2 separate regions of the Homo sapiens genome follow, and region 1 is linked to region 2. Evidence: fine-mapped expression QTL. A gene starts in region 2. The other region holds a variant in brackets. All regions are shown on one strand. Distances are from middle to middle.

Region 1 (15,639 bases), 87 kb before region 2:
TCTGCTTAGAGCCCTGCAGCCTTCCCATCACACTCGCAGGGAATTCCACGTCCTCCTGGTGGCCTGCAAGGACCTGAGTGCCTCACCCTGCTCTAGCTGCTTGTCTCCTTTCTGTTCCCACCTTGAGGCCTTTGCACTTGCTGTTGGCACTGCCTGGACCACTCCTCCCTCAGACAGCTGCAACTGGAGGAGCTGGCCTCCCTCAAGTTTTTGTCCAGTGTCTCCATAGCAAGCTCTTTCCCGACCCTCCCGATTTGCAGTTGCAACTCCTTCGCTTCTAATTTATTTATTACTTACATTTTTTGAGACAGAGTCTCGCTCTGTTGCCCAGGCTGGAGTGCAGTGGCATGATCTCAGCTTCCTGCAAACTCCACCTCCTGAGTTCAATCAATTCTTGTGCCTCAGCCTCCCAAGTAGCTGGGACTACAGATGCAAGCCACCACACCTGGCTATTTTTTTTTTGTATTTTTTTGGTAGAGATGGGGTTTCACCATGATGGCCAGGCTGACCCAACAGCAGTTGGCCTCAAGTGATCCACCTGACTCAGCCTCCCAAAGTGCTGGGATTACAGGTGTGAGCCACCACGCCTGGCTTTATTTTTTTTTAGTCCAAGTCTCATTCTATTGCCCAGGCAATCTCAGCCTCACTGCAACCTCCGCCTCCCGAGTTCAAGCAATTCTCCTGCCTCAGCCTTCTGAGTAGCTGGGATTATAGGTGCGTGCCACCATGCCCAGCTAGTTTTTGTATTTTTAGTAGAGATGGAGTTTCACCATGTTGGCCAGACTGGTCTCAAACTCCTGACCTCAAGTGATCTGCCTGCTTCAGCTTCCCAAAGTGCTGGGATTACAGGTGTGAGCCATCGCACCTGGCCTCCAACTCCTTCACTTCTCTTCCTCCCTGCTTCTCCCTGTTGTATTTCCTAACCCCCGCCCCACCCCGCACTCCACCCGCTCTTATCATCTTCAAATATGAAGGAGATATTCAGAACATTCTCGCTGGATGAATGAATGAGTGTCCATTTTGGTGGTGGTGCTGATGATAAGAAGGGTGGTAATAATGAGGATAGAAATGAAAAAGATGGGGCTGGGCGCAGTGGCTCACGCCTGTAATCCCAGCACTTTGGGAGGCTGAGGCGGGCAGATCACGAGGTCAGGAGATTGAGACTATCCTGGCTAACACGGTGAAACCCTGTCTGTACTAAAAATACAAAATATTAGCCGGGTGTGGTGGCACATGCCTGTAATCCCAGCTACTGGGGAGGCTGAGGCAGGAGAATCGCTTGAACCCAGGAGGTGGAGGTTGCAGTGAGCCGAGATCGTGCCACTGCACTCCAGCCTGGGCAACAGAGTGAGACTCCATCTCAAAAAAAAAAAAAAAAAAAAGAAAAAGAAATGAAAAAGATGGGGTGAGGATGTCCATGGTGGGGGGACAGTGGTGGTAGTAGGGACAGTGATGGGGCTTGCAGGTGTGGACGGGAGTGTGAGGCTCATGGGAATGGGGACAGGGATGGGGATGGAAATGGAGGTGGAGGTAATGGTGGGGCTGGGGCAGGGAATAGAGGTGGTGGGGATGGTGGGGACAAGGATGAGGACAAAGGGGAGAAAGATGAGTGGACCCCATCCCTACAAGGTGGCTGCTCCATGCCCTGTCACCTCCACCTTGACCAACTGTTGGCAGTGCAGCCCTAGCCCCACCCCACCCTGAGGCTTCCCTCTCCTGGCCCTGGCCCAGCACTGACCTCCTTGGTGGGGGGACCCGCACTGGGCTTCTCCCGCCCATAGCCTGAGCTGGTCTGGCGCATGCTCCAGGGCAGGGGATGCTTGCCGTCAGGCACCTCCAGGGGGCGGTAGCTCTGGCTGGCCACAGACTGGAAATGGTCCTGGGCTTGTTCCCTGAGGGTGAGGAGGAGCTAGAACCCCAGGCCGCCTGCCTCTGTCCTCTGCTAAGGAGCTTCCCTCCTCCCTGCACCCTCCCACAGATGGCTCAGAGGTCCGCTGTGCCCTGAGTCACCCAGGACCCCCAGCCTAGGGCAGGCAAAGCTCAGGGTCCCCATCCAAGGAACCTGGAGTTGGTCTGATGAGCAGGGCAGGGGCTGGGAAGGGGCCATACAGACCGTACCCCCTGGCCGGGTTGTCTAAGGCCTCCAGACTGGCTTGGCATGAGACCACGGGCTGGAAATTTGATTTGTAGCCGGTGCCTACGTGACTGCCCACACGGGGCTTGAAATCCTCCCGACCTGCCAGAGGGGTAACGGGGAGACAGACCCCAAGGTCAAAAACAGGCAGGGCTTCCCAGGCAGGGCCAGCGTCCTCCGAGGGGCACAGGGGTCACAGTGACAGGGGAGGGCTCAGAGCCACGGGCAGGAGCTTTGCAAGCCTGCCCTTTCAGGACTGTGATGGCAGGAAATGGAGTGGGTGGGCTGGGGACAAGGTCAGTGTGGCAGAATCACAGTGACAGAATTGCAGGGACAGAACCAGAGAAGGGAGCAGCCGGGCAGGGCCCAGGGGACAAACGGATTCAGCAGTTGCTCTGCAGTGTGACAGCCAGAGGGTCTGCTCCTCCCTCAGAGAGAGCCCCTCCCTTCCTGCCCATGTCCTAGCAGAGGCTCCTGCGCAAAGGCACCCTCACCGTAGGCGGTGCAGTAGCTGGTGGCGTAGAATTTCAGGGGGTCCGTGTAGCCCCCCGAACTCATCTTCACATAAGGGGAGACGACCCCCAGGGGGAGTTTCCCCATCATGATGCTGTGGGGCAGGGCCCCAGGGGGCCTAGAAAGGAAGCACGGGGAGCCTCATGGGTCCCAAGCCTGGCTCGGAAGCCCACAGGGGCGAAGATCTGCCCCCCACCACCCACAACGCAGCTGGCCCCTTCTCCCAGGCCTCTGTCTCTCTGCCCCAGCTCCCAAGTCCCTAAACTAAGGACGAAACCGATCATCCACACTTATCCCAAGAGTCCTCATGTCTCCTCTCACTTTCCCACACCTTCTTATTAACTCTTCCTGTCCCCATTTACCACTGGGACAGTGAGGTTCCAAGTGATAAAGGATTTGCTCCATAATAGGTGGTAGTGCTGGGATTCAGACCTAGGTGTTTGACTACTCGGCCCCTGACCTGAACCTTACATACCCACCTCTCGGAATGAATGAGCCGACAACCCACTACCTGGGGAATTCTTGGCCCCCACCCAAGAAGTCAGGCCGAGGCGCTCACTCCCAGCCCCCGGCTCCTCTCTCTCCCTCATCTCCATGGCCTTGCCCGCCTCTGGCCTTGCCTGCCTCCCCTGGGAATTGGCTGCACTCTCCCCGAGGCCCAACCACAGCGGCCCCACCCTCACCTTTCCTCTGCAGAGGCTCTGAGGTCGGGGAGAGGCTGCAGGAAGCAGAGCTCTGCAGAGAAGCCAGCCCTCCTGGAGGAGGCCAAGCAGGAGAAACAATGTGTAGCCTAGCAACTGGTGCCTAGCAACAGCGTCCCCAGGCTTCTGAGACCTTCTAGGGCCAGGGCCCACTGAGGGGCTGACCTGGCCAGGAGGGGAGGGTCAGAAGCTGCCCGAGCAAGGCCCTGCTTCCAGGGCTCCGGCCCCAACCTCCGGCCTCCTCCACAGGGCTGGGAAGAGTTGCTGTCTGCGTGACATAAAATAAAAGATAATCCCGAACACTCACTCCCATAAAGTACCCACTTCTCGGCAGATACTTTACATCCTCTATCTCCATCCTCTGAGCAGCTCTTCAGTAGCTATGATTATCCCCATTTTCACTGGGGGAACATGAGGCTTAGATAAGCAAAATGACTTGACTCCAGAGATCTCGCAATCAGAAAATAGCCAAGTTGAGATTCAAACGTGGGTGGATGTGGATCCCGCTCTTCTGCCTCTCGGTAAATCAACATTTACTATGTTCCTCTGGAGCTGAATCTGTGCTAAGCCCTTTAACACACATTACGTCGTGTAATCCCCCAAACCACCCTGTGAACTGGGCACTATTATTGTAGGGCCAATAAACCGCAGCAGTTAAGAGTGTGGTTCAAATCTGATCTGTCACCTTTGATGAGGTACTTATCCTCTTCACGCCCCCAAATCCCCATCTTCGCAAGGGACGTGACTGCACCCACCTCACAGGGCTGCTGGCAGATTTAGCAAGAGCATGGATTCAGCACCTGACAGGTAGTAAATGCTCTTTTTTTTTTTTAAGAGAGACAGGATCTTATGCTCTCACCTGGGTTGGAGTACAGAGGTACCATCATAGCTCAGTCCAGCCTCCAACTCCTAAGTTCAAGCAATCCTCTTGCCTCAGACTCTCAAGTAGCCAGAACTACAGGTGTGCTCCCCCCTGCCTGACTTGCTTATTTATGTATTTATTTGTTGTAGAGACAGCGTCTTGCTATGTTGCTCAGGCTGGTCTTGAACTCCTGGCCTCAAGTGATCCTCCTGCCTCAGCCTCCTGAGTTGCTGGGATTGCAGGGGCAAGCCACCACACTCGGCAAATGCTCAATTTGCAAAAGCTGCTGTACTTTTAGTCTTATTTTGCAGATAGGAAAGGCGAGGCTCAAGGGGAAATAGCCCAGGCCCCACAGTGGGTGGAGACGGAGCCTGGACTCAAATCTGAGTGCGCAAACTCCACAGTGAGAATCTTCTTCCATGACAGCCTTTTTGCCTCAAATTGGCTTTCAGGCTTGTAAATGTTGTAACAGTTAGATCTCTGGGTGGGGTGGGATAGCCCTACTTTGCAGCATTTGCCAATTTCTGTGATGTCAGTGGTCCCATCAGGGCTGCTTTCAAACCACCACTACAGTGTCTTTGAACCGGGACATGGGAAGGTCGCTCACCACTGTACGGGAGTAGTCCCATCATGCAGACATAATGGGCGTAAGTAACCTCGACAGCACAAATAATAGAAAAATGTACTCACATAATTAAGGGGTGATGAGTTTTAGGTATTTTTTTTTGTTTTTAATATAATTCATTAAATTGCAGGTTTAAGTTATTTATTTATTTATTTATTTATTTATTTATTTATTTATTTATTTGAGATGGAGTCTTGCTCTGTCCCCCAGGCTGGAGTGCAGTGGCACGATCTCAGCTCACTGCAACCTCCATCTCCTGGTTCAAGCAATTCTCCTGCCTCAGCCTCCTGAGTAGCTGGGATTACAGGTGCACGCCACCACGCCCAGCTAATTTTTGTATTTTTAGTAGAGATGGGGTTTCACTATGTTGGCCAGGTTGGTCTCGACCTCCTGAGCTCAAGTGATCTGCCTGCCTCAGCCTCCCAAAGTGCTGGGATTACAGGCGTCAGCCACCGCGCTCGGCCAGTAATTTAATTTTTAACAATGGCAGAGTTAAAAACCAGCTTGCCAATTTCCTGGAAGTTTCGCCTTCAGCTCTCCTGAGCCGGTAGAGCTGGCTTCAGAGCACCCCTGCTCTCAGGGGAGAGTGAGGTATGAATGAAGGCTGAATAAAGGGAAAGGAGGCATCTCCTTTCCTCACCCAGGAGATGCCCTTGCC[G/A]CATTCATCCTGTAGTGACCTGGCCTGCCAGGGTGGAGGCTCACTCGTGTCCTCACCCAGCCCCCCATGGGAAGGCAAGCTGAAGCACGTTTGGCACCCACCCTCCGGACTAACGATTCTGTTCAGGGATCACAGGGCACAAGGACACAGGAGTGAGTGCACACAGCCCTGCCCTCCAGCAAAGTGCTCCCATTCTACTACAGAGGCTCGTGGGAGTTCCACACACGAAGCACAAAGGGTGAGACCACCATAGGTGAGGTGCTCACAGGGTGAAGGGAGAGAGGGGCCCTCCTCTAAGTGTGCCTGGATAAGTGGCTACGAGCAAGAGCTTGGACTCTGAAGCCAGATGGTGTGGGTCCTGTCTCTGCCACTAGATAACCGTAAGACAGTGCATGTTCCTTGTGCCTCAGTTTCCCCTTCTGGAGAATGAGTATAATAATGGTAACTACCTGCAGGGTTGTGGTACGCACGAAGCATTTAGCCCAGTACCTGGCACACGGTAGGTGCCATCTAAGAGCTAGGGAAAGAGGTTCCTTTTGAGTACTCACTGCCTGCTAGGCAAAGGGTTGGGCCTAAGGGTTACAAACAGGAAATCCACATGGCCCTGGCCTCAGAGAGCCCACGGTTTAGGAAGGATCTCAGATGTAGCAAAAGAAAGCTCACTGTGGGAGCCCGAGTTCAAAACCTGCTTCTGCTGTGTGTGACTCGGGGCTTCCTCTCTTTGAGCCTGTTTCTGTACCTGCAGGCAGGGATAACTGTGCCTACCTAGCAGGGTCGCTGGTGGATTTGAAATACCCTATGCACAAGAGGTAACAGGCCTGCACCAGGCAGAGATAAGGAAGGGCCCTCTACGTGGAAAGCCCGACAAACACAAAGGCGGAGACAGGTGTCCAGCAGGCTGGGAGCCCTGACTAGTGCAGCGTGGCTGGAGCACTGCGTGGGGAGGAGAGGCTCAGCTGGGAGAAGCAGCCCCCAGGTAGGCTGTAGCCAGGTTTTCCTTTTAGCAGGTGGAGGGGGCAAGGAGGGGTGGTAGAAAGGTTTGAAATCATCCCTTAGGGCTTCTCTTAGGGAGGCTCTAGGCTGTAGCCGACCAAGGACCTGGGCAGGAGTTCAAGGGTCGGGGATCAGGGTCTGGCCGGCGCTGTCCCATCAGAGCCCCCATTAGGTCCCGTCCTCCCGGCGGCCCGTGGGTTTTTTGCTGTGTGGCGACACCCAGCGGCCATAACTCGGAACTGCAGGAGATGCCGCAGATGAATCCCTAAGACCGGGGTCGGGGGGTCCTAGGAGTTGGGGACAGAGCAGCTCCGTCGACCTGGCCACAGCCCCACCCCAAGCCTCACTCACCCATCCCTCCAGAACAGGAGGGTTGCGTCTGGGCAAGGAGTGTTCCGGGAGGGCAAGCGCTGGAGCCCACAAGGAGCGGGAGCCCAGGTGCCAGGTGACCCAAGAGCAGCGTGACTTTTGGACCTGTCACCTGTGGACCTCAGTCCTTCTATCTACAAAATGAAGGAACAGACTAAAAGTCCTTCCATACTGGAAAATCTAGGCCCACCTCATCCCACTCCCTTCCCATATCTGTCCCCATTTATTCAGCACTTTATTGTGCCAGAGCTGAGCTACGAATCACCTCATCATCGCTTTTCACTCCCGGCTCTACGTGGGAACTACTATAATCCTGCCCATGTTACATGTGAGGAAACTGCCTGAGGCCTCGCAGACAGGGAGGAGTGGAGCTGGGATCCAAACTCAGCTTTGACCCTGGAATCTATGCCCCGCCCTCTGGAACACACCAGCAAATTCTCCAGAAAGCGCCGGGACCTTAGCACTGGGCTTTTCCAAAGGGATGATTTTCCAAAGGGATGGGCTGCCCTGGCCAGATGGGCAACTGCCTCCTACTTTCTAGCTCTGCCCAGTCCTGGGCAGTAAGATTCCCGTTTCCAGCCGGGCACAGTGGCTCATGCCTGTAATCCCAGCACTTTGGGAGGCCAAAGCAGGCAGATCACCTGAAGTCAGGAGTTCGAGATCAGCCTGGCCAACATGGCAAAACCCCGTCTCTACTAAAAATACAAAAATTAGCAAGGCATGGTGGTGGGCGCCTGTAATCCCAGCTACTCGGGAGGCTGAGGCAGGGAGAACTCCTTGAATGCAGGAGTAAGAGGTTGCAGTGAGCCGAGATTACACCACTGCACTCCAGCCTGGGCGACAGAGCAAGACTCCATCTCAGAAAAAAAAAAAAAAGATTCCCCTGTTTCCCTCCCATACGAAGGCAGAGGCTACAGACACACTAGGTTAGCAGAGAGGACCCAGTGAGAGGACATGCTGGGTCTCAGCCCATAGAGTTCCTTGGCTGGGATCAGTGGGGTAGGCCCTAACAGGCTCCCGAGGCCAGAGCACACCACCACTGAGTGCTGAGTCCTGAGCAGAGACAGACATCTGCGCTCTGTGCTGGGCCATGTGGGCTGCAGTTCCCTAAAAGAGGATTAACTGAAGTGAATGAGCCACACACCACCAAGTGTGTGTCATTTTGCTTTGGTTGATGTGGGTCTTTATAGCCGCCCTCAGAGGGAAGCCAGGGCTCTTGTAGGGAAGAGACAGGTTGGCATACTTCAGCTTAATGGATAGAAAAGCCTCCTAACACACAAAATAATCCAATAGGGGAACAGGCTGCCCTGGGGGGAGTGAGTTCCCCATCCCAGGAGGCATGCAACAGCTTGACAGGATGACAATAAGAGCAAACTTTCACTGGTTCGTTAGGTATCAGGGACTGTTTCTAAGCACTTCCCATGATTAGCACAATTAAACTTCACCGCATTCCTACCTGGTGGGTGGTATCAGCTCCTCCATTTTATAGATGAAGAAACTCAGACACAGAGAGGCTGCGTAACTTGTCACAGGTCACACAGCTACTAAGGGGAAAAGCCATTATTTGAACCCAGACATCCTGACTTCAAAGGTCATGCTGGTGACCACTTTGATATTGCCTCAAAGGTTGAGCTAGAGGTTCTCAGATCTATTTTCAAAATCTGACCTCCTATGACTTTTTAAATCTCTTTTTAAACCTGATTACCTCTATAGAGAAAAAAAAATAAAAAGATTTTAAGAAAATGTTTATAGAGACAGGATCTTGCTTTGTTGCCCAGGCTGGTCTCAAACTCCTGGCTTCAAGGGATCCTCCTGCCTCGGCCTCCCAAAGTGCTGGGAATACAGGTGTGAACCACCATGCTAGGCCTAAAAATCCTTTTAAAGAGTTCACCCCTCTCATGGTCCTCAGTTTGTGCTGGGCACTGCTGGGTGAAAAATTCACAGAAGAAAGGTCTGAAATTGTTCGAATCAGCTAAGATGATTGAGAAATGGGAAACAGATCCCTGGGATGCAGCTAAAGGCACTGAGCCCTCCCAGCCCAGGAGGCTGGGGGTGGCAGGGAGAGGGTAATTATACTCCTACTTTTGAAATTCCCATGCTGGAGGCTGGGACAAGCCTAGAGTAATGTTTCTTGGCTTCAGGTGATCTGAGGTTACATGCCTGCCCCTTTCTGAGCCTTTTCTAGGCTTGAGTTTGAGGTCTGGCTCTGGCACAAATAGTGCTATGTGACCCTTCTTAATTAACTGCCTCCCTCTGATCCTGTTGCCTGTGAAGAGGGGGTTGAGCCAGGATAGGAGGTTTGGCTTGCTTTAGTTTGAGATGTGTTGTTTGGCCTGGAGAACTTGGAGCTCTGTCTTCATATACTGAAGTGATGGCTGGTTCCACGTCCCCTCCCCCTGGGCCCCTCACCTGCCATCTGTGACATAGCAGGACCCCAGCCTACCCCCTTCCAAGGTCCTTCCCCTCTGCCTTATTACAGCGGGGCATGGAGGGGAGTCGGCCTCATGCCAACCCACACTCAGCCTGGCCTCTAGGCCTGCTGGACCTGCACAGGGAGTTTCTCCCAAGCCAGACTCCAAGGTGCCCACAAAGGACACAAGGGCTCACTGAACCCCTCATTCTGCCCCCAGAGTACTGTTTCCCAACCCAGATTCTTCTGAGCCCACCAACAAAGCTCACCCAGGTGAGATGCCCCAAGCTCAGCTGCTCCAACTGACCCTTTCAGGGGAGCAGTTTGAAGCTGGGACGCAGCATAAAGGGGATCATGGCAGAGAAGAGCTGACTGGGAGGACATCAAGTCTGTGAGGCCCTGTCTTCCCTGCGATGGGGAAGAGCATGGAGCCCTGGATTCGTGCAACCACCTTTCTGTCTAGTCCTGGGAGTGGGGGCTGCCCTGCTTCATGGGCTCAGCTGTGTGAGCACCAAGGAGTGATGGGTGACATAATGACCGTGGGGGCGCAGGTTGGGTCCAGGGCGTGGTCTGCAGGCAGGCCTGTCATCGATTTTGCCCATTTCCAGTTTCTCTGCTCTGTGACTTGCAGTGATTAAGGCAGGAGAGCTGCCCAGGACTGGGGCCCCCCTTCCGAAAGTGCTTTGGGGGTTCTATTCACTGAGCTGTGTCATTACCAGGAACTGAAATAGCCCAAGTCTAATGGCTAAGTCCCATCTCTCTCTCTTTCGTAAAAGGAAATGATTCCCCTGATGACCGGATTGCTTTCCCTCACAGCCTCCCACAATCCTGGCCTCACTTGTGGTTCATTTCTCCCCTCAGTGGGCATTTCCTGGAAGACTCTATCCTGTGTATCTGATGGCTGTTCTGTTCCTGCCTGTTCTGTTCTTTTACTGTCTCCTCTGGGTGAACTTGTTGATCTCACACAAGGTTTAAAAATTCATGACTCGCGGGGAAGATGAAATGAGATGAGGCAGAAAATAAGAAGCCATTCCCAATCCTCAGATGGAATGAAGATATTCTTGGCAGAGATGAGCAAGGAACCAGGACAGGGGTCAAGGGGGTGGGTTTCCAATGCACAGAGATCTGGGTTCAATTCTGCAGCCCTGCCTTTATGAGGTATGTGCCCTTGGACAACTTCCTTAACTTCTCCGAGCCTGTTTCCTTGGCTGTATGATGAGGTCACAGTAGAACTTTAAGAGACTTAGGCTTGGAATACAGAAAAGACAATATTTACATGCTTAGCACACAGCCTGGCATAGAGAAAGCACTCAAGAAATGTTTATGATTATCATTGCATTTTCCTGCCTTCCTTGCAGTTAGATAAGGGCCACATGGCTGGTTCTGTGGGTGGAATTGAGCAGTGCCACTCCCAGTCTGAGTAGTTAGAGGTGGGTGTGAGTTTTCCATTCTCTGTGGGTAGAAATCACACTTGGGATGGAAGAACCAAAAGATGGAAGCAGGCTGGATCTCTGAGTCACTGCATGGAGTCAGCTGCCCTGGAGCTGCTTTTCCTGCAGCACACTGGGATGTGATAGAGAGATAAACCTTGCTGCTTTAAGCCTCTAAGGTTTGGGGTTTTGTTTGTTACTGCGGCATAAGCAAAGAAATGAAGATTTGAGAACTTCTTAGGAAATAAATTAGGATGTGATTCTGTATTAGTCAGCATTCTCTAGCAAAACAGAATGTGCACACACACACATACACGAGAGACAGAGAGAGACAGATTTATTATACAGAATTGGCTCTGCCTGGGCCAGTGATGCCTGTAATCCCAGCACTTTGGGAAGCTGAAGTGGAGGGTTGCTTGAGCTCAGGAGTTCAAGACCAGCCTGAGCAACACAGTGAAACTCCGTCTCTACAAAAAAAAAATTTTTTTTAATTAGCTGGGCATGGTAGCATGTGCCTGTAGTCCCAGCTACTTGGGAGGCTGAGGTGGGAGGATCACTCAAGCCCTGGAGGTTGAGGCTGCAGTGAGCCATAATCGTGCCATTGCAGTCCAGCCTGGGCAACAGAGTAAGACCCCATCTCAAAAAAAAAAAAAAAAAAAGGAATTGGCCCACGTGACTATGAAGGCTGGCAAGTCCCAAGATCTTCAGGATGAGTTGGTTGGCAAGCTGACGACCCAAGAGAGCTGATGGCTTAGTTCCAGAGTAAGTCCAAAGGCTTGAGAACTGAGAGAGCTGATGTAGTTCTTGTCTCAAGGCCAGCAGGCTTGAGACTCAGGAAGAGCCAGTGTTCCCAGGCGAATCTGAAGGCAGGATAAAAGCCTGTGTCTCAGTTTGAAGGCTACCAGGCAGAAAGAATTGCCTTTCACTTGCGAGAGTGTAAGTCTTTTTGTTGTATTCAAACCTTGAGCTGATTACATGAAGCCCACCCCGGTTAGGGGGACAGACTGCTTTACTCAGTTTACCAATTTAAATGCCAATTTCATCCAAAAACATCCTCATAGAAACACCCAGAAGAATACTCGATCACATATCCAGGTACCCAGTCACCTAGACAAATTGAGACACAAATTAACTGTCACATTCAGGCATATGAAACTCACTGGAAGCAGACAGATGAGAGGCCTACTGAAATTTTGAGAAAACAGTAATGCCCAAAAAAAATGGGGCTTTTTTTGTTTGGTTTTTGTTTTTTTTTTTTTTTTTTTAGAGAAAGGGTCTTGCTCTGTCACCCAGGCTGGAGTGCAGTGGCGCAATCATAGCTCACTGTGACCTCAACCTCCTGGACTCAAGAGATTCTCCCGCCTCAGCCTCAAGTCGCTGGAACTACAGGCATGAGCCACCGCCCCTGGCCATGGGCCTGGTCTTTAAAAAGATTGTGACTATTTGAAACTTAAAACTTCCATGGGCAGGAAGTGGGCTGAGAAATCCACACAACCCTCAAGGAGGGTGGAACACACAATCCCTACTTCAGATATGATCGAGTAAAGTAAGGTAGGGGAAAAAGAGCTTTAAATGAGGGAGCCAAGCGGCCCTGAGAGCAGCGATGAAGGTAGTTCCTTCCAGAAACTTCCCTACCCCTCCACAAGGTCTGCCCAGAAGGCCTCAGCTCCCACTTCCCGGGGTATCCTTACTGTGGTTATCCTGTCCCTGCCCCTACTCCACCTTTGTGTATGGCGTGGGGGTGGGAAGGGAGAAGCAGGTAACCTGCCTTTTTTTTTTTTTTTTTGAGATAGAGTCTTGCTCTGTCACCCAGACTGGAGTGCAGTGGCATGATCTCAGCTCACTGCAACCTCTGCCTCCCAGGCTAAAATGATTCTTGTGCCTCAGCCTCGCGAGTAGCTGGGATTACAGGTATGCGCCAGCACACCTGGCTAAATTTTGTATTTTTTAGTAGAGATGGGGTTTCTCCATGTTGGCCAGGCTGGTCTCAAACTCCTGTCCTCAAGTGATCCACCTGCCTCGGCCTCCCAAAGTGCTAGGATTACAGGTGTGAGCCACTGTGCCCAGCAGGTAACTTTTAAAATTTATTTTTATTTTTTATTTATTTTTTTTTTGAGACGGAGTCTCGCTCTGTCGCCCAGGCTGGAGTGCAGTGGCACAATTTTGGCTCACTGCAACATCTGCTTCCTGCGTTCAAGCGATTCTCCTGCCTCAGCCTCCTGAGTAGCTGGGATTACAGGCACGTGCCACCACACCTGGCTAATTTTTTTTTTTGTATATTTAGTAGAGACAGGGTTTCACTGTGTTGGCCAGGCTGGTCTCGAACTCCTGACCTTAGGTGATCCACCCCCTTGGCTTCCTAAAGTGCTGGGATCACAGGCGTGAGCCACCGCACCCGGCCCCCAACAGGTAACTTTTTAAAATTCCTACATCTCTGGACCAAAAAAGGCCACCTCTAGACCTCATAAAGAGACCCTAGGGCAGCCCATGAGATCCTGGCTGGAGGCAGGAGCTGCACATCACTCTGGGTTTTCTCTCTTGGAAAGCAGTTTCATGTTGTGTGTTGTGTGTAGGAAGAAGAGCAAATCCAATGCGGTACATGGAGACCAGCAGAACAGACTGTGGTAGAGACTTCAGGCTCAGCCAGATCTGGTTCTCTTCTCCTTCCTGGGTACCAGGGAGAACCACACCTCCCAGGCTCCTTGCAGTTCCACAGGAACATGTGACTAGCTCCGGCCCAAGGGCTCGGAGAAGTGTCACGTGTTGCTTCCAGGTTGCAAGTGAATGTGAGTTATCCGCACTTTCTCATTCCCTTTAGTAGCAACCGTGGAGACCACATGTTGAGATGGCAGAGCGTGGATCCCTGGGCTGCCACAGAAAGGAGCTGTCCTGAACAGCTGCCCAGTTCACATTGGACTTGGCACAAATGAGAAATAAGGGTTGCGTTGTTAAGTCGCTGAGATTTGGGGGTTTATTTATTATCATAGTCTAGCCTAACGTGACTAGTACACCTTTCAATTAGATAGTGGCTAACTATATCATGCATAGGAGGGAAAGGAAACATCTAGAAAGTATGGTAAGTTTGTGGTTTTAAGAGAATCCTGTGGCTGGGTGCAGTGGCTCAGGCCTATAATCCCGGCAATTTGGGAGGCTGAGGTGGGAGAATTGCTTGAGGCCAGGAGTTTGAGACCACCCTGGCCAACATAGCAAGACCCTGTCTCAAATTTAAAATTTAAAAAAGTTAATTAAAAAAACAAAAAAAAAAAGCCCGGGCACAGTGGCTCATGCCTGTAATCCCAGCACTTTGGGAGGCCAAGGCAGGTGGATCACAAGGTCAGGAGTTCAAGACCATCCTGGCCAACATGGTGAAACCCCGTCTCTACTAAAAATACAAAAATTAGCCAGGCACGGTGGCAGGCGCCTGTAATCCCAGCTACTCGGGAGGTTGAGGCAGGACAATCGCTTGAACCCGGGGGGCAGAGGTTGCAGTAAGCCGAGATCGTGCCACTGCACTCCAGCCTGGGCGACAGAGTGAGACTCCGCCTCAATAAATAAATTAACCAATTAAAAAAAAAAAAGGCCAGGTACAGTGGCTCACGCCTGTAATCCCAGCACTTCAGAAGACCGAAGTGGGTGGATTGCTTGAGTCCATGTTTGAGACCAGCCTGGGCAACATGGTGAACAAAAAATTAGCTGGGCGTGGTGGCACATGCCTGTGGTTCCAGCTACTTGGGAGGCTGAGGTGGGAGAATCGCCTGAGCCTGGAAGGTTGAGGCTACAGTGAACCAAGATCTCGCCACTGCACTCCAGCCTGGGCAACAGAGTGAGACCCTGTCTCAAAAAAAAAAAAAAAAAAAAGAGAATCTCATAAAACACTCAAAACATTTTCCACTAACTTGTTGAGTCTCATTAACAACTTCCATTTGCAACAGATATCAATGGTCTTGGATCCAGCACAGGCAGCTTCATAAAGAGTCTCTACCTTCATTTATTTCATCAGTCAATTAGTCATTCAATGAACATTTAATGAGCACCAACTATGTGCCAGGCACTGTGCTAAAACACAGAACAGAATGGAACGTAATGTATGTATGGTCCTTATCCCCCATGGAACTAGTAGTAGAGAGAGTTACACATAATCTCTCTGGGCTGGGCTTGGTGGCTGGCACCTATAATCCCAGCACTTTGGGAGGCTGAGGCAGGCGGATTGCCTGAACTCAGGAATTCAAGACCAGCCGGGGCAACATGGAGAAAGCCGATCTCTACCAAAAAAAAAAAATAGCCAGGTGTGGTGGTGTGCGCCTATGGTCCCAGCTACTTGGGAGGCTGAGGTGGTAGGATTGCTTGAGCCTGGGAGATAGAGGTTGCAGTGAGCTGAGACTGTAGCACTACACACCAACCTAGGTGACAGAGTGAGACCCCATCTCAAAAAAAAATTTTTTTTTAATAAATAAATAATCTCTCTGTGCTAACCTAAGGGCCGTGTAGGGTAACAGTACAAGCATGCTTACTGGAGGCCAACGTGCCTGAGTTCCAATTCCAGTTACTTCCATGTAATGTGCTTGCTTAGAACAGTCTCTCTCTGACACACACACACACACACACACACACACAAATAAAGACACAAAACAAAAAGCAGATGAGTAAGATTCAAATGCAGGTCTGGCTGACTCCAAAGCCTGCAAGCTTAGCTGCAATGCAATGCTGCCTCTCCAATGGCCAGGTCACAGTGCTATGTGCTTTATCCATACAGTGTGCCAAAAGCATTGTCTATATTTTATTTTTTTTGAGACAGAGTCTCATTCTGTTGCCCAGGCTGGAGTGCAGTGGCACGATCTCAGCTCACTGCAACCTCCACCTCCCGAGTTCAAGCGATTTCTGGCTAATTTTTATATTTTTAGTAGAGATGGGGTTTCACCATGTTGGCCAGGCTGGTCTTGAACT
Region 2 (15,217 bases):
ATATAATCATTTAAAAATTTTCAATGGCCGGGTGCAGTGGCTCACACCTGTAATCCCAGCGCTTTGGGAGGCCAAGGCAGGTGGATCACAAGGTCAGGAGATGGAGACCATCCTGGCTAACACGGTGAAACCCCATCTCTACTAAAAATACAAAAAAAGTAGCCGGGCGTGGTGGCGGGCGCCTGTAGTCCCAGCTACTCGGGAGGCTGAGGCAGGAGAATGGTGTGAACCCGGAAGGTGGAGCTTGCAGTGAGCAGAGGTCACGCCACTGCACTCCAGCCTGGGGAACAAAGCAAGACTCCGTCTCAAAAAAAAAAAAAAATTTCAACACAGAAAATAATTTTTGAGACTATAGAAAGTGAAAGACCTCCATGTCCCTACACCCTGAAGATTATTAGAGAATGACGTGTATTGTTTCAGATTTTTTATACGTATATATTCACATATTACTATTTATTATTATAAAAATAGAAGCATACCCTACATCCTGTTTTGCAACTTATTTTTCCCCCACAAACATTTTTCCACACACATAGCTACCTTAATTTTTTTTTTTTTTTGATAGTGTTTAATTCTGTCACCCAGGCTGGAGTGCAATTGCATCATCATAGCTCACTGCAGCCTCGAACCCCTGGGCTGAAGGGATCTTCCCACTATAGGTACACGTCACTATGCCCAGCTAATTTTTTTTTTTTTTTATTGAGACGGAGTTTCTTGTCACCCAGGCTGGAGTGCAATGGAGCGATCTCGGCTCACTTCAACCTCCACCTCCCAGGTACAAGCGATTATCCTGCCTCAGCCTCCCAAGTAGCTGGGATTACAGGTGCCCGCCACCATGCCCAGCTGATTTTCGTATTTTTTAGTAGAGACAGGATTTCACCATGTTAGCCAGGCTGGTCACGAACTCCTGACCTCAGGCAATCCGTTCGCCTCGGCCTCCCACAGTGCTAAGATTACAGGCGTGAGCCACTGCACCTGGCCTTAACTGTTCTTTTTAATTTTTTTTAATTTTTTGAGACAGAGTCTAGCTCTCTCGCCAGGCTAGAGTGCAGTGGTGCAATCTCGGCTCACTGCAACTTCCGCCTCCCGGGCTCAAGTGATTCTCCTGCCTCACCCTCCCGAGTAGCTGGGATTACAGGCACGTGCCACCACACCCAGCTAATTTTTGTATTTTTAGTAGAGATGGGGTTTCATCATGTGGGCCAGGATGGTCTCGATCTCCTGAACTCGTGATCTGCCTGCCCCAGCCTCCCAAAGTGCTGGGATTACAGGCGTGAGCCACCATGCCCAGCAACTGTTCTTTTTTAATGGTTATATACAAGTCCGTTGAATCAGTGCCGTAACTGATTTAACAATCCCGTATGGACAGATGTTTAGTTTGTTTACAGTGTTTTGATGTTACCAAATTTTTGGCAATAAACATTCTCATATAGCTATCTTCGCATATCTGTGGAATTTTTTTTTAATCTAGTTTTAGAAGTGAAATTGTTGGGGCTAACAGTAAAACATTACACAGTAATAACTACTACCCAAGAGTTGTACTAAATTAAATTACCACAAAAGTGTATAACAACCTGTTCCCCACACCCTAATACTGGGTGTTATAAATCTTTCTTTGCCAGTCTGATGGGTAAAAAATGTTACTTTGTTTCAATTTGATTTTTATTAGCGAGTTTGAGCATCTTGTCAAGTTTTACTGGTTCTCTGTAATTATTTTTACATGAACTGCCATTAATGTCCCTTACCAATTTTTTTTTTTTTTTGAGTCTCACTTTGTCGCCCAGGCTAGAGTGCAGTGGGCGATCTTGGCTCACTGCAACCTCTGCCTCCTGGGTTCAAGCGATTCTACTGCCTCAGCCTCCCAAGTAGCTGGGATTACAGGTGCGCGCCACCACACCCAGCTAATTTTTGTATTTTTAGTAGAGACGGCCACCATGTTGGCCAAGCTGGTCTCAAACTCTTCACCTCAAATGATCCACCCACCTCGGCCTCCCAAAGTGCTGGGATTACAGACGTGAGCCACTGCGCCCAGCCAATTTTTAAAGTTATTTTGTTTTTTCCTTAGTGATTTATGTGAGCCTTCTTTTATCCTTTCTTATATGTTGCAAGTAATTTTGTTCCTAAGTTTGTGCTTTAACGTTGATTTCAGGGATGACATATTCTAACAAATAAGGGTTTTGCTCTGTATTTCTGGGGTTATAAAACTTGTCCTACAGGCCAGGCATGTTGGCTCACGCCTGTAATCCCAGCACCTTGGGGAGGCCAAGGCAGGAAGATTGCTTGAGGCCAGGAGCTTCAGACCAGCCTGGGCAACAAGGCAAGACACTGTCTCTACAAAAAACACAAAATTAGCCAGGTATGATGTCGCACACCTGTGGTCCCAGCTACTCAGGAGGCTGAAGTTGGAGGACTGCTTGAGCCCAGGGCTTCAAGGCTGCTGTGAGCTATGATCGTACCACTGTACTACAGCCTAGGTGACAGAATGAGACCCTGTCTCAAATAAATAAATGTTTAAAAAACAAAATCTGGCCAGGTGTGATGGCTCACACCTATAATCCCAGCACTTTGGGAGGCCAAGGCGGGTGGATCATGAGGTCAGGAGATCGAGACCATCCTAGCCAACATGGTGAAACTCTATCTCTACTAAAAATATAAAAACTTGCCGGGCATGGTGGCAGGCGCCTGCAGTCCCAGCTACTCAGGAGGCTGAGGCAGGAGAATTGCTTGAACCCGGGAGGCGGAGGCTGCAGTGAGCCGAGATGGTGCCACTGCACTCCAGCCCAGGTGACAGAGTGAGACTCCATCTCAAAAAAAAAAAAAAATCCAACCAGGTGCAGTGGCCCACATTTGTAATCCCACCACCTTGGGAGGCCGACACAGGCAGATCACAAGGTCAAGAGATCGAGACCATCCTGGCCAACATGGTGAAACCCCGTCTCTATTAAAAATACAAAAATTAGCTGGGAGCAGTGGTGCACGCCTGTAATCCCAGCTACTCAGGAGGCTGAGGCAGGAGAATCGCTTGATCCCGGGAGGCAGAGATTGCAGTGATCCGAGATCGTGCCATTGCACTCCAGCCTGGGGACAGAGTGAGACTCCATCTCAAAAAAAAAAAACAAAAAACTCCTACAGAGATCCTTATTCAGAGAATTGTTAGGGATCTTAGTACTGATCTGTACAGGATACACTGCCTGCCCTGACGTGGAGTTACAACTGAACCTATTCCCCTAAGAATACTAGTGAGAAGAACCAAGCACTCTTCTTGCAGTTAGGCAGCTGGGAAGGAATCATCTAATATCCCATTCTATTGCCCATCTCTAGCCTTACAGAGCAACAAACAGGTAAATCTTGACCCAATGTATGAAGCAGCAACTTGAAACTTCAGAGACGGAGTAATAGGATATACAGATCCAGTCTATGATAGTCAACCTAGGTTATGTACTTTTCTTGTTAATCAAGTTACAGATACCAGCTTGTCTCATAAGGAGTGGAAATATTCTCTGGACAACACTTACCAAAAAACAGGCGAATTACTTCAATTCCAAGATAAAGGAGGAGCATCACCACATCCAGTACTAGGTTAGCTGTTGGATATGGTAGCAGGACACCTGCCAATACAAAAGCCAGAGTTTGCAAACAGCATATAACAGCACCCACAAGAACTGCCACACACTTGGGAAAAAAGAGGACATCAGTCTCAGCTTTCCATGAACTAGTTAGTGAGATGTGGGCATTATTACAGCAGCAGGATACATAAACTCACAATGCGACTCAGGCTCATTATTATGGTGTTTTACTCCTAACTCCAAAAGTCTCTGGGGACTCCACTCTCCAAAATGATTGGATGTACATGGGTACACAGGCCACTGAATAGTTTCTAAGGGTCACCAGTGGGCTTACAGTGGAGCTCAGCAAAGAGCAGTGATGTGGGCAGAGTCAGAATGGAGAAGCCCACATTTCTCAAACTCAAGAAATTCTTGCTGAGGGGCTGCCTATGGAATCATACTCAAAGAAGCCATCTGATGAGGAGGCCTGCCTTGCAGCGACAAAGAACTGCAGGGGGCAGAAAAGAACGGAAAATAAGAAGGTTCTTGGTAGGAATTGGCTCTGAGCTGAAGTGGGGAAGGGATGCTGTCGTCAAGCCCCAAGCCTTCCTTACCTTTATACAGAAATATGAAAAGTTCCAGCAGGAAATAGGTAGCATTATACCACCCGTTCAGAAAGAACAGGATTTCCAGCGGGGTGGAGGACAACCGTTTACCTGAAAAAGGAGCACAGAGAAGTGGGATGGGCCGGAAGGCAGCTCCCTCTCTGCTCGTATGGGTTGGTGTCTAACTTTGGGGAAACTAGACGCTGCAACTAATGGGACCGGCCACTCAGGGGCACTTCTGGTTGCTGATAATGAGGGGGCGAGGGTACGGGGGTGGGAGTGGAGGGGGCTTCCCTCCTTTCCTAGGAATCACCGTGAAACTCGACTCTTCGGCTTCAGGAATAAAAGTCAAGAGGTAACTCGCAGCTGACAGACATCTCAAAGATCTCACTCTGTCACTATTTGGGAGGGGAAGTTGGGGCGCAGAGACCAACAGATTCGCACCTGAGCCAGCCTAGAAGTGGCCCAGCCAAGGATCTGCGTTTATTTGAGCTGTGCACCTTGAGACCTTCAGGCACCCAGGGTGGGCGGGACCGCGGAAGCCGGCTTTGGACCAGGGAGGCGCGACGTCCCTAACGCTAGAGAATGGAGGGTTTAGGTCAAGCTCTGGGACAGAGGTGGGAGGGAGCGACCGAAGGGAAAGGGACCAGCGACTCACACACCTCCGGAATCTCACCTCGCGGCGCCATCTTCAGTCCCCGTGGCAGCATACGCTGCCACAGCGGCTCCCGGAGCAGCGCGGCGCTGCCGGAAACAGGGACGAAGCGGCCTGGGTTTCCGGCCCCTCTGCCCGCCCGCGGCACTCTGTGGTCACCCGGAGCTGGACGAGCTCGGGCCTGGCCGCAAGTGGCCCTCGCTCGGATGTCCCCTCTCCAGACCTAAGGGATAACGGTGACCACCCACGACGCCGTCGTCTGCAGGACCTCAGGGGTGCGGGGGAGGACCTTGGAGGCTCTCAGACTACCGGGCGTTGGGCGGAAGTGGCCAGTTGTGATAGTGTTACCAGGAGATTGGCAAATAGGTCCTACTCCCACGATTCTCTTTTTTCAACGGAAGACAAGAAAAGGTGTGAGCGACGGATCTCTGCAAATGCAGGGTGGAGTTAGCATTGGTCTTTTCTGCGGCCGATTTACCTACCAGGTAGAGACACGAAGGAAATAGAGCGTCCTTTCCAGGAACACACATAAATAAAATGAAACGAGTCACCACGCGATCCATAAAGTGGTGCAGTGGGAGCTGAGAGGACAAAGTGCTCCCAGGTGGAAATCTAAGTTAGTTTCCAAGAGACGGCCTGTGAGCTGGGCTTCAAAGCCTGCCTGATCCGGATTTGCAGCGGTAAAAGCGTGTTGCTGGCCGGGCTTAGTGGCTCACGCCTGTAATCCCAGCACTTTGGGAGGCCGAGGTGATGGATCACCTGAGGTCAGGAGTTCGAAATCAGCCTGGCCAACATGGCGAAACCCCGTCTCTACTAAAAATACAAAAATTAGCCGGGCGTACTGGCGCGCGCCAGTAGTTACAGCTACTTGGGAGGCTGAGGTAGGAGAATCGCTCGAACCCGGGAGGCGGAGGTTGCAGTGAGCTGAGATCGCGCCACCGCACTCCAGCCTGGGCGACAGTGAGACTCTGTCTCAAAAAAAAAAAAAAACAGAAAACTGTGTTGCTGCAGGCAGGGGAGTGCAAAAAGAAGGGTTTTGAGAGGACTCAGGTTGACTTGACTTGGCTGTTAGCCCGTTGTCAATCAGGGTAAAGCAGGAAACAGATGGCACGCTCCAACCAGGTAGCCTGAGGAAGGTGACTAAGCTTTATTTTATTTATTTCATTTTATTTTTGAGACGGAGTTTTGCTCTTGTAACCCAGGCTGGAGTGCAATGGCGCTATCTCTGGTCACTGCAACCTCCGCCTCCTGGGTTCAAGCGATTCTCCAGTCTCAGCCTCCCAAGTAGCGGGGATTACAGGTGCCCCCCACCACACCCGGCTAAATATTTTTGCATTTTTAGTAGAGACGGGGTTTCACCATGTTGGCCAGGCTGGTCTGGAACTCCTGACCTCAGGTGACCCGCCCCCCCCCCCCCCCCCCCCCCCCCCCCCCGCCTCCCAAAGTGCTGGGATTACAGGTGTGATTAATGCCCCCGGCCAAGAGTGACTAAGCTTTAAGCAAAGTGCTGTACCCCTGGCTAATTGGGATGTGGTGGGGCGGTAATTGTTACTTCTAGGCTTAAAAGGGAAGGGCCTGAAACAATTCCCTGAAGCTGGAGAGTAATATGTGCATAGAAGGCCTCCCACTAGGAACCCTCACACTCTAGGAGGCTAGTGGATAAATATAGCAGGGACCTCCATTTCCCTTCTCCCATCTCTGATCTCTGCTTATGTCTCCCGCTGACACAACTTAACTGCAAGCTGGAGGGCAAGGAAGCCCTTTAGGGTAAGTAGGAAAGCGCAGAGCACAGAGGTTAAGGTGGAAAGGAATCCAGATCCTGCTTCCCCATCTTCGCTGCCTGCAAGACAAGAGACATTAGAAAAGTTCCTGCTCTGAGCCTGATATGGAAAGAAAGTGGGCCAGCTGCACCTGGCGCGGTGGCTCACACCTGTAATCCCAGCACTTTGGGAGGCTGAGGCGGGTGGATCACTTGAGGTCAGGAATTCAAGACCAGCCTGACCAACATGGTGAAACCCCATCTCTACTAAAAATACAAAATTAGCCGGGCATGATGGCACATGCCTCTAATCCCAGCTACTTGGGGGGCTGAGGCATAAGAATCGCTTGAACCTGGGAGGCGGAGGTTGCAGTGAGCTGAGACCAAGCCATTGCACTCCAGCCTGGGCAACAAGAGTGAAACTATGTCTCAAAAGAAAAACAAAGAAAGTGGGCCAGCTGCTTGTTTTTGTAAATAAAAGTTCTTTGGAGAACGTCATCATGGTCACTTACTTACATGTTATTATATATTGCAGCTTTCATGCTATTATGGCAATGTTAAGTAGTTGCAACAGAGACCACATGGCCCACAGCCTTAAATACCATCTGACCCTTTAAGAAAAAGTTGGCTAATCTATGTCAGAGTATGCCACAACTTCATAGATGCCAAAAGCTGACAGTGAGGCCAAATTACTTATGGCAAACAGCAGGAACATCAGCATGGCAACCTGGGGGCCCCCTGCTCCCAAGTCCTATGAGTGACACAATGACCCCAGATGGTGCTGCACTCAAGGAGTTATGCCACAGCTTGGTGGAGCCCAGAGCCAAAGGCTCAGTACCCTTTTTAGCAAGCAGCAAATAAAGCCAGGCCCTTTCCACTGGGGAGGGAGAAATTATACTATCATCACACTATAGTCACTTTGGTCTACTTAATTGCTTCTGTGCTCAGTATCAGGAGACAGACTTTCTGGTTTGACATAGTAAGAACATGCAGGGATGCTTAGGACCCATGCAAGACTGTCCCAACAGCCAGTGCCCTTGCTAAATTGATTATTTCTAGGAGGCTTGTTATGTACATGATCACATCATCAGTAAATAAAGACATTTTTACTTCCTTCTCAATCTCTATACCTTCAATTTCTTTTTCTTGCCTTATTGCACTGGCCAGGACTGGCAGTGTAATGTTGACTATAAGTGGTGATGATGGATAGTCTTGTCTTGTTCCTAACCTCAGGGGAAGCGTTCAATATCTCACCATTAATATGGTGGCTATAGATTTTTTTTGTAGATACTCTTTATCAGATTAAGAAAGTCCCTTATTATCCTAGTTTGCTAAAAGGCTTATGATATATTTTATTAAGTGTGTTCTCTTAATCCGTTGAGAGGACTATATGATTTTTCTCCTTTATTCTGCTAATATGAATTACATTGATTTTCAGAGGTATGACCAACCATGTCTTCCTGGAAAAAATAAAAAACCCATTTGCTTATGAGACTGTACAGAAAAAACTTAACATAGCAGACCTGAGGCTGCTGTCTTTGGAGAGGCCCAACTGCAAGGTTGACCCTTGCCTGGCGTAAGGGAACTTGGCTTTTGGTAGTGTTCCCACCAGTTTAAAGTGGCTCACAGTGCCTAAACTGTACAAACAATGTGGCTTATGCTAAATACCTGTTCTCCTTCTCAGAGTCTGGAGTTTTGAAACATGTTAGGCAGAGGGTGCCTTCATGATCAGCTCCCAGTAAAAACCTTGGGGGCTGGGTCCAGTGGCTCATGCCTGTAATCCCAGCACTTTGGGAAGCTGAGGCAGGAGGATCAATAGAGCTCAGGAGTTCAAGACCAGCCTGGACAACACAGTGAGACCCTGTCTCTACCCAAACAAAAAAATTTAGCCAGGCATGGTGGTGCACACCTGTAGTCCCAGTTACTTCGGAGGCTGAGGCAGGAAGATTGCTTGAGCCCAAGAGGTAGAGGGAAGAGGCTGCAGTGAACCATAACTGTTTAAAAAAATAAAAATAAAAAAAATAAAACTTGGACCCTGAGTCTCAAGTGAGCTTTCCTAGTAGACAACATTGCACATATGTTATCAGAATTTGTTGCTGGAGGAATGATGAACGTCTTGTGTGATTCCCCCTGAGATAGACCTCTTGGAAGCATGCTGCTAGTTTCTCCTTGACTGTGCCTCATGTATCTTTTCCCTTTGTTGACCTTGCTTTGTATTTCACTGTAATAGATCAGAGGCATGAATACACCTGTATGCTGGGTCCCATAAGTCCTTATAGCAAATCATCCAAACTGGGTGTGATCTTGGAGACCCCTGACACAGATATGTTATCCTTTTTATATGTCACTGGATTTCATTTGCTAATTTTGTTCAGGTTTTACATATGTATCATGAGAGAGATTGGTCTGTAATTTAACTTTGTCAAGGACCTTGTCAAGGGTGGGTATTAAGGTTAAGGTGGCTTCATCCAATAAAGCGAAAGGTATTTCTTCTTTTTCTATTCTCCGGAAGAGATAGTGTAAGCTAGGTAATATTTCTTCTTCAAGTATTTGAAAGAATACACTGATGAAGCCATCTAAACCTAAATTTTTTTTTTGGTGGGGGGGAGTTTAAAATAATGAAATCCCTGTACTATATATAAGAACATTCAGATATTCTACTTCTCGAGTAAGGTTTGGGTGAATTTGTGTTTGCATAAACCTTGAATAAGGTTTGGGTAAATCATTTTGTATACATTTCCAGATGTATTGGTGTGAAGGTTTTCATAACATTCCTCAATTCTTTTTTTTTCTGTATTATAAGTCAGTAGTCAGGCTGGGCGCAGTGGCTCATACCTGTAATCCCAGCACTTTGGGAGGCCAAGGCAGGCGGATCACTTGAGGTCAGGAGTTCAAGACAGCTTGGCCAACATGGTGAAACCCCATTTGTGCTAAAAATACAAAAAAATTAGCCAGGTGTGGTGGTGCATGCCTGTAGTCCCAGCTATTTGGGAGGCTGAGGCAGGAGAATCGCTAGAACCCAGGAGGTGGAGGTTGCAGTGAGCCAAGATCATGCCACTGCACTCCAGCCTGGCAACAGAGCGAGACTCTGTCTAAAGAATAATAATAACTAATTAATTTTTAAAAATTAAAAAAGTCACCAGGCAATCCTTAAATATTACTTAATGGATGTAAGAACTGCAGTGATGTCCCTTTTCTTTCATATTTTTTTCTTCAATAGTTTTGATAGGTGTTTATCAATTTTATTAACGTTTTATTTTTGTTTTTTATTTTTTTTTATGAGACAGGGTCTCACTCTATCGCCCAGGCTGCAGTGCAGTGGCACGATCTTGGCTCACTGCAACCTCTGCCTCCCAGGCTCAAGCAATTCTCGTGCCTCAGCCTCCTAAGTAGCTGGGACTACAGGCATGCACCACCACACCTGGCTAATTTTTTTTTTTTTTTTTTTGAGACGGAGTCTTGCTCTGTCGCCCAGGCTGGAGTGAAGTGGTGCGATCTCGGCTGGCTGCAAGCTCCGCCTCCCAGGTTCACGCCCTTCTCCTGCCTCAGCCTCCCGAGTAGCCGACTACAGGCACCCGCCACCATGCCCAGCTAATTTTTTTTGCATTTTTAGTAGAGACGGGGTTTCACCGTGTTAGCCAGGATGGTCTCGATCTCCTGACCTCATGATCTGCCCGCCTCAGCCTCCCAAAGTGCTGGGATTACAGGTGTGAGCCACTGCTCCCGGCTTTTTTTTTTTGTATTTTTAGTAGAGACAGGGTTTTGTCATGTTGCCCAGGCTGGTCTCGAACTGGTGAGCTCAGGCAGTCCACCTGCCTCGACCTCCCAAAGTGCTAGGATTACAAGCATCAGCCACCATGCCTGGTTTCTTATTATTATTATTATTATTATTTTATTTTTTTGAGACAGAGTCTTGCTCTGTCACCCAGGCTAGAGTGCAGTGGTGTGATCTCGGCTCACTGCAGCCTCCGCCTCCTGGGTTCAAGCAGTTCTCCTGCTTCAGCCTCCCGAGTAGCTAGGATTACAGGCGCCCACCACTGCGCCCGGCTAATTTTTGTATTTTTAGTAGAGATGGGGTTTCACCATGTTGGCCAGGCTGGTCTCGAACTCCTGACCTCATGATCCACTCGCCTCGGCCTCCCAAAGTGCTAGGATTGCAGGTGTGAGCCACCGTGCCCAGCCTTATTAATTTTTTTAAAAACAGCTTTCGACTTTCTTTTTCTTCATCGTATAAAATTTGTTTTCTATTTTACAAATTTCTGCTCTTTATAATTTCCTTCTTCTTACTTTCTTTAGGTTTTTTGTTTTGTTTTGTTTTGTTTTTGTTTTTGTTTTTTGAGACAGAGTCTGACTCTGTTGCCCAGGCTGGAGTGCAGTGGTGCGATCTCAGCTCACTGCAGCCTCCACCTCCTGGGTTCAAAGGAATTCTCCTGTCTTAGCCTCCCAAGTAGCTGAGATTGCAGGTGTGTGCCACCACACCCAGATAATTTTTGTATTTTTAGTGGAGATGAGGTTTCACCATGTTGCCCCCAGGCTGATCTTGAACTCCTAACCTCAAGTGATCTACCCGCCTCAGCCTCCCAAAGTGCTGGGACTACAGGCATGAGCCACTGCGCCCAGCTGGGTTCAAAGTGTTTTCTAATTTCCCTTATGATTTCTTCTTTGACCCATGGGCTATTTATAAGTGTATTTTATTTTATTTATTATTTTATTTTATTTTATTTTATTTTATTTTATTTTATTTTATTTTATTTTATTTATTTTAAGACAGACTCTCTGTTGCCCACGCTGCGGTGCAATGGTGCGATCTCAGCTCACTGCCACCTGTGCCTTGCAGGCTCAAGCTATTCTCATGCATCAGCCTCCCGAGTAACTGGGGCTACAGGTGCGTGCCACCACGCCTGGCTAATTTTTGTATTTTTAGTAGAGGTGGGGTTTTGCCATGTTGCCCAAGCTGGTCTGGAATTCCTGAGCTCGAGTGACATGGTATAGGCGTGAACCACCGTGCCCAGCCTTATTTAATTTCTGAATATTTAGTGGTTTCCTAGTATGGCAGTTATCAACACTGCCTCAGCTCCAGATTCACTCTCAGTACCTGTTCTGTTCCATGATAACCGGATCGACGCTAAGCATTTATCCCGTACAGTGAGTACAGTGTTAAGCTTTGTCAGCAGAGGGCACTAGAGGGCTATTGCAGAAACAAAGAGGCTCTCCCGGGTTCCAGTGTGCAGCCTTCGGATTTTTCTAAGGAAACCATGGATGTCAACTATGACCGTGATTAGTTACAAAAATGATCAGTTACAAAAACGAGGACTGTAGCAGCGATGCATATTCTTCTTTGCTTCTTACATGCATGTGTTTATTTGTATGTACTGACCATGTCTTTTGCCTCCCTTTGTTATTTTATGTGCAAATTGTTGGAGGTCAACTTTACAATCTAGTTTTTAGGTAATAGACACAGGTAATAGTTTTTAGGTAATAGTTTTTAGGTAATAGGGATCACGACAAATCTGTGGAGTAATCTAGCCAGCTATGGATACAGTGACTGTTTGGACTGTGTGTCTTATCATTTGGGGGAAGGCTGAGAACTTCACTTTTAGAGAGGAGATATCTTGTTAGTAGGAATGTAGCTACTAAGGGAGTTCAAAATTTGTGTAAAGAGTGCATATGGTAGTGGAGTAGCTGGAAGAATGGTTTCTGCCAGTTACCTATTTTTTGCCTCTCAGCTTCATTATTTACCTACCCTTCGGTGTCTGTTAAGCGATAACTAGACTCGAAGCATTTCTCCCTACAATGAGTACAATGTTAGGCTTTGTCAGCAGAGGACGCTAGAAGGACATTGCAGGAAGGAAAGGGCTTGTCTTCTGGTTCCAGTGCACTCCAGCTAGGGGCCTTGCTCCATCGTCCATCAGCAGGGCACGCCTTGGGAGATCTGCTGGTGTTCCACTCCAGCTGCACACCCAAAGCCGGCACTCCCTTGGCAACTTTGCCGATCTGGTCTAGGCCCCGTGACCAACTTGCTGTGGACTCCTTGTCATGGTTGCCGCTTACTCCAGGCCTTCCACCTGGGGCAGCTCCCTAACTCTGTGCACCTGCCCCCTAGTCTTGGCTTACCTATGCCATGGATGGTTTTCCCCAAAGCCCTCCAGGCATGGACAACGTGCGGTCAAGGCTGTGCCCCAACTTCCTCTGTGCGTCTGCTCACCAATCTGAGTTCTTCTGCATCCCAGAGGGTTGATTCCCATCCTCCATATCCTGTGTGGACACCATGCACTCCAAGCACATGGGGCATTCCAGCTCTTTTGATGCATCTGTCTGACAGCTGGGGCTCACCTGCGACCTGGAAGGTTGTTTCCTAGGGGCCTCCCAATGCGGGTGCTATGTGCTCTGGGCAGGTGGTGTTGCTATGTGCTCTGGGCAGGTGGTGTCCCCATGTGCTCTAAGCACCTGCCTACCAGCCTTAGCTTGCTTTTGGCCTGGAGGGTTGTTTCTTGCCTGGCAACTGTGAAACAGCTCTGGCCTGGGCTAATCAGTGAACTTCACACTGCCCAGTGAGTGGCATGCAGTGAAGTCTGAACCCCTGCCTTGGGGGTGGGGACCCTACTGAGTTTGCCCTTCCTTGGGTACTTCCCTCTTTACTTCCTTATAATTCCTCTCTTATTATAGTTTAATACTTTTTTACTTTTTCTATTTTTTTTTTTAATTTTTTTGAGACAGGGTCTTGCTCTGTTGCCCAGGGCTGGAGTGCAGTGCTGCAGTCATAGCTCACTGCAGCCTTGACCTCCTGGACTCAAGCAATCCTTCTGCCTCAGCCTCCCAAGTAGCTAGGACTACAGGCACATGTCACCATGCCTAGCTAATTTTTTCTTTTTAATAGAGACAAGGTCTTGCTATATTGTCCAGCCTGGTCTCAAACTCCTGGTCTCAAGTGATCCTCCTGCTTCAGCCTCCCTAAGTGCTGGGACCGGCTGGGCATAGTGACTCACTCCTGTAATCCCAGCATTTTGGGAGGCCGAGGCAGGCGGATCAGTTGAGGTCAGGAGTTCGACATCATTCTGGCCGACATGGTGAAACCCCGTCTCTACTAGAAATACAAAAATTAAACAGGAGTGGTGGCACATGCCTGTAATCCCAGCACTTTGGGAGGCTGAAGTGGGATGATTGCTTGAGTTGCTTGAGGCCAGGAGTTTGAGACCAGCCTGGTCAACATAGTGAGACCTTCATCTTACTAGAAAGAAAAAATAGAAAAAAATTAAAAATAATCTTTATGTTTACCTAAATACTATCTTTTTTTTTTTTTTTTTTTTTGAGATGGAGTCTCACTCTGTCACCCAGGTTGGAGTGCAGTGTCGAGGTTTCAGCTCACTGCAAACTCCACCTCCCGGGATCAAGCGATTTTCCTGCCTCAGCCTCCCGAGTAGCTGGGATTACAGGCATGTGCCACCACACCCAGCTAATTTTTGTATTTTTAGTAGAGACAGGGTTTCTCCATGTTGGCCAGGCTGGTCTCCAACTCCTGACCTCAGGTGTTCCGCTTCGGCCTCCCAAAATGCTGGAATTACAGGCGTGAGCCACCGTGCCTGGCCTATCTTTTGTTTGTTTGTTTGTTTGTTTGTTTTGAGACAGAGTTCAGGCTGGAGTGCAGTGGCGTGATCTCGACTCACTGCAACTTCTGCTTCCTGGGTTCAAGTGATTCTCCCTCTGCAGCCTCCCGAGTAGCTGGGATTACAGGCATGGGCCACCATGCCTGGCTAATTTTTTTGTGTGTTTTTAGTAGAGACAGGGTTTTGCCATGTTAGTCAGGCTGGTCTGGAACTCCTGACCTCAAGTGATTCACCTGCCTTGGCCTACCAAAGTGCTGGGATTACAGGTGTGAGCCACTGTGCCCCGCCTTAATGTTTCTTATAGTGCAGCACTAATTCTCTTAGTTTTCTTTTATTTGAAAATGTTTTTATTTCAGCTTCATTTTTTTTAAATTTTTAAATTTTGTTTTATTTTTAGTAGAGATGGGGTTTCACTATATTGGCCAAGGTAATCCTGAACTCCTGACCTCAGGTGATTCACCCACCTCGGCCTCCCAAAGTGCTGGGATTACAGGCATGAACCACTGCACCCAGCCCGAGGTTGCCTGTCTTTTAATTTACTGAGATAATATTTTCTTTTCTTTCTTTCTTTCTTTTTTTTTTTTTTTTTGAGACGGAGTCTCGCTATAGCCCAGGCTGGAGTGCAGTGGTACCATCTCAGCTTACTACAACCTCTGCCTCCCGGGTTCAAGCGATTCTCCCGCCTCAGGCTCCCGAGTAGCTGGGACTATAGGCACATGCCACCACGCTCGGCTAAGTTTTGTATTTTTAGTAGAGACGGGGTTTCACCATATTGTTCAGGCTGATCTTGAACTCCTGATCTCAGCTGATCCGCCCGCCTGGGCCTCCCAAAGTGCTGGGATTATAGGCGTGAGCCACTGTGCCCAGCTTTGAGATAATATTTTCATTGATGCTTTCATATCCTTGTTTGTTAATTCCGATATCTGGACCATCTCTTTGGTGGCACTTGTAAATGTTGGAGACTCTGGTTTCAGTTACTTTTCCCCAAAGAGTGATGTTTTTTAATTTTATCAGGCGGTTAGCTCAGTTACATATATACTACAGTCACC

Direction of the effects. Positions count from the first base shown, and alleles are read on the strand shown. Sizes are in standard deviations (SD) of each study's normalised expression.
For the expression in spinal cord of the gene that starts at base 4,905 in region 2, G is the high allele of the variant in region 1 and A is the other (moderate effect, 0.51 SD a copy in GTEx).

The links. PIP is the estimated chance that this variant, and not a neighbour inherited with it, causes the effect.
Region 1: its variant is fine-mapped to the expression of TMEM216 in spinal cord (GTEx, PIP 0.92).

The regions. Positions count from the first base shown.
Region 1 is chr11:61,468,908-61,484,546 of GRCh38, reverse strand. SAXO4 (stabilizer of axonemal microtubules 4) reads right to left here and starts at 3,427. Exons shown (of 14, transcript NM_145017.3): 1 at 3,331-3,427; 2 at 2,629-2,765; 3 at 2,119-2,236; 4 at 1,739-1,892. The coding sequence starts at 2,737. RefSeq lists an enhancer at 1,696-1,990. The variant G/A (reference allele first, on the strand shown) is at 5,494.
Region 2 is chr11:61,382,275-61,397,491 of GRCh38, reverse strand. It overlaps TMEM216 (transmembrane protein 216), which reads right to left and starts at 4,905. Exons shown (of 5, transcript NM_001173990.3): 1 at 4,827-4,905; 2 at 4,160-4,261; 3 at 3,516-3,608. The coding sequence starts at 4,860. RefSeq lists an enhancer at 4,179-5,140 and a silencer at 11,669-11,828.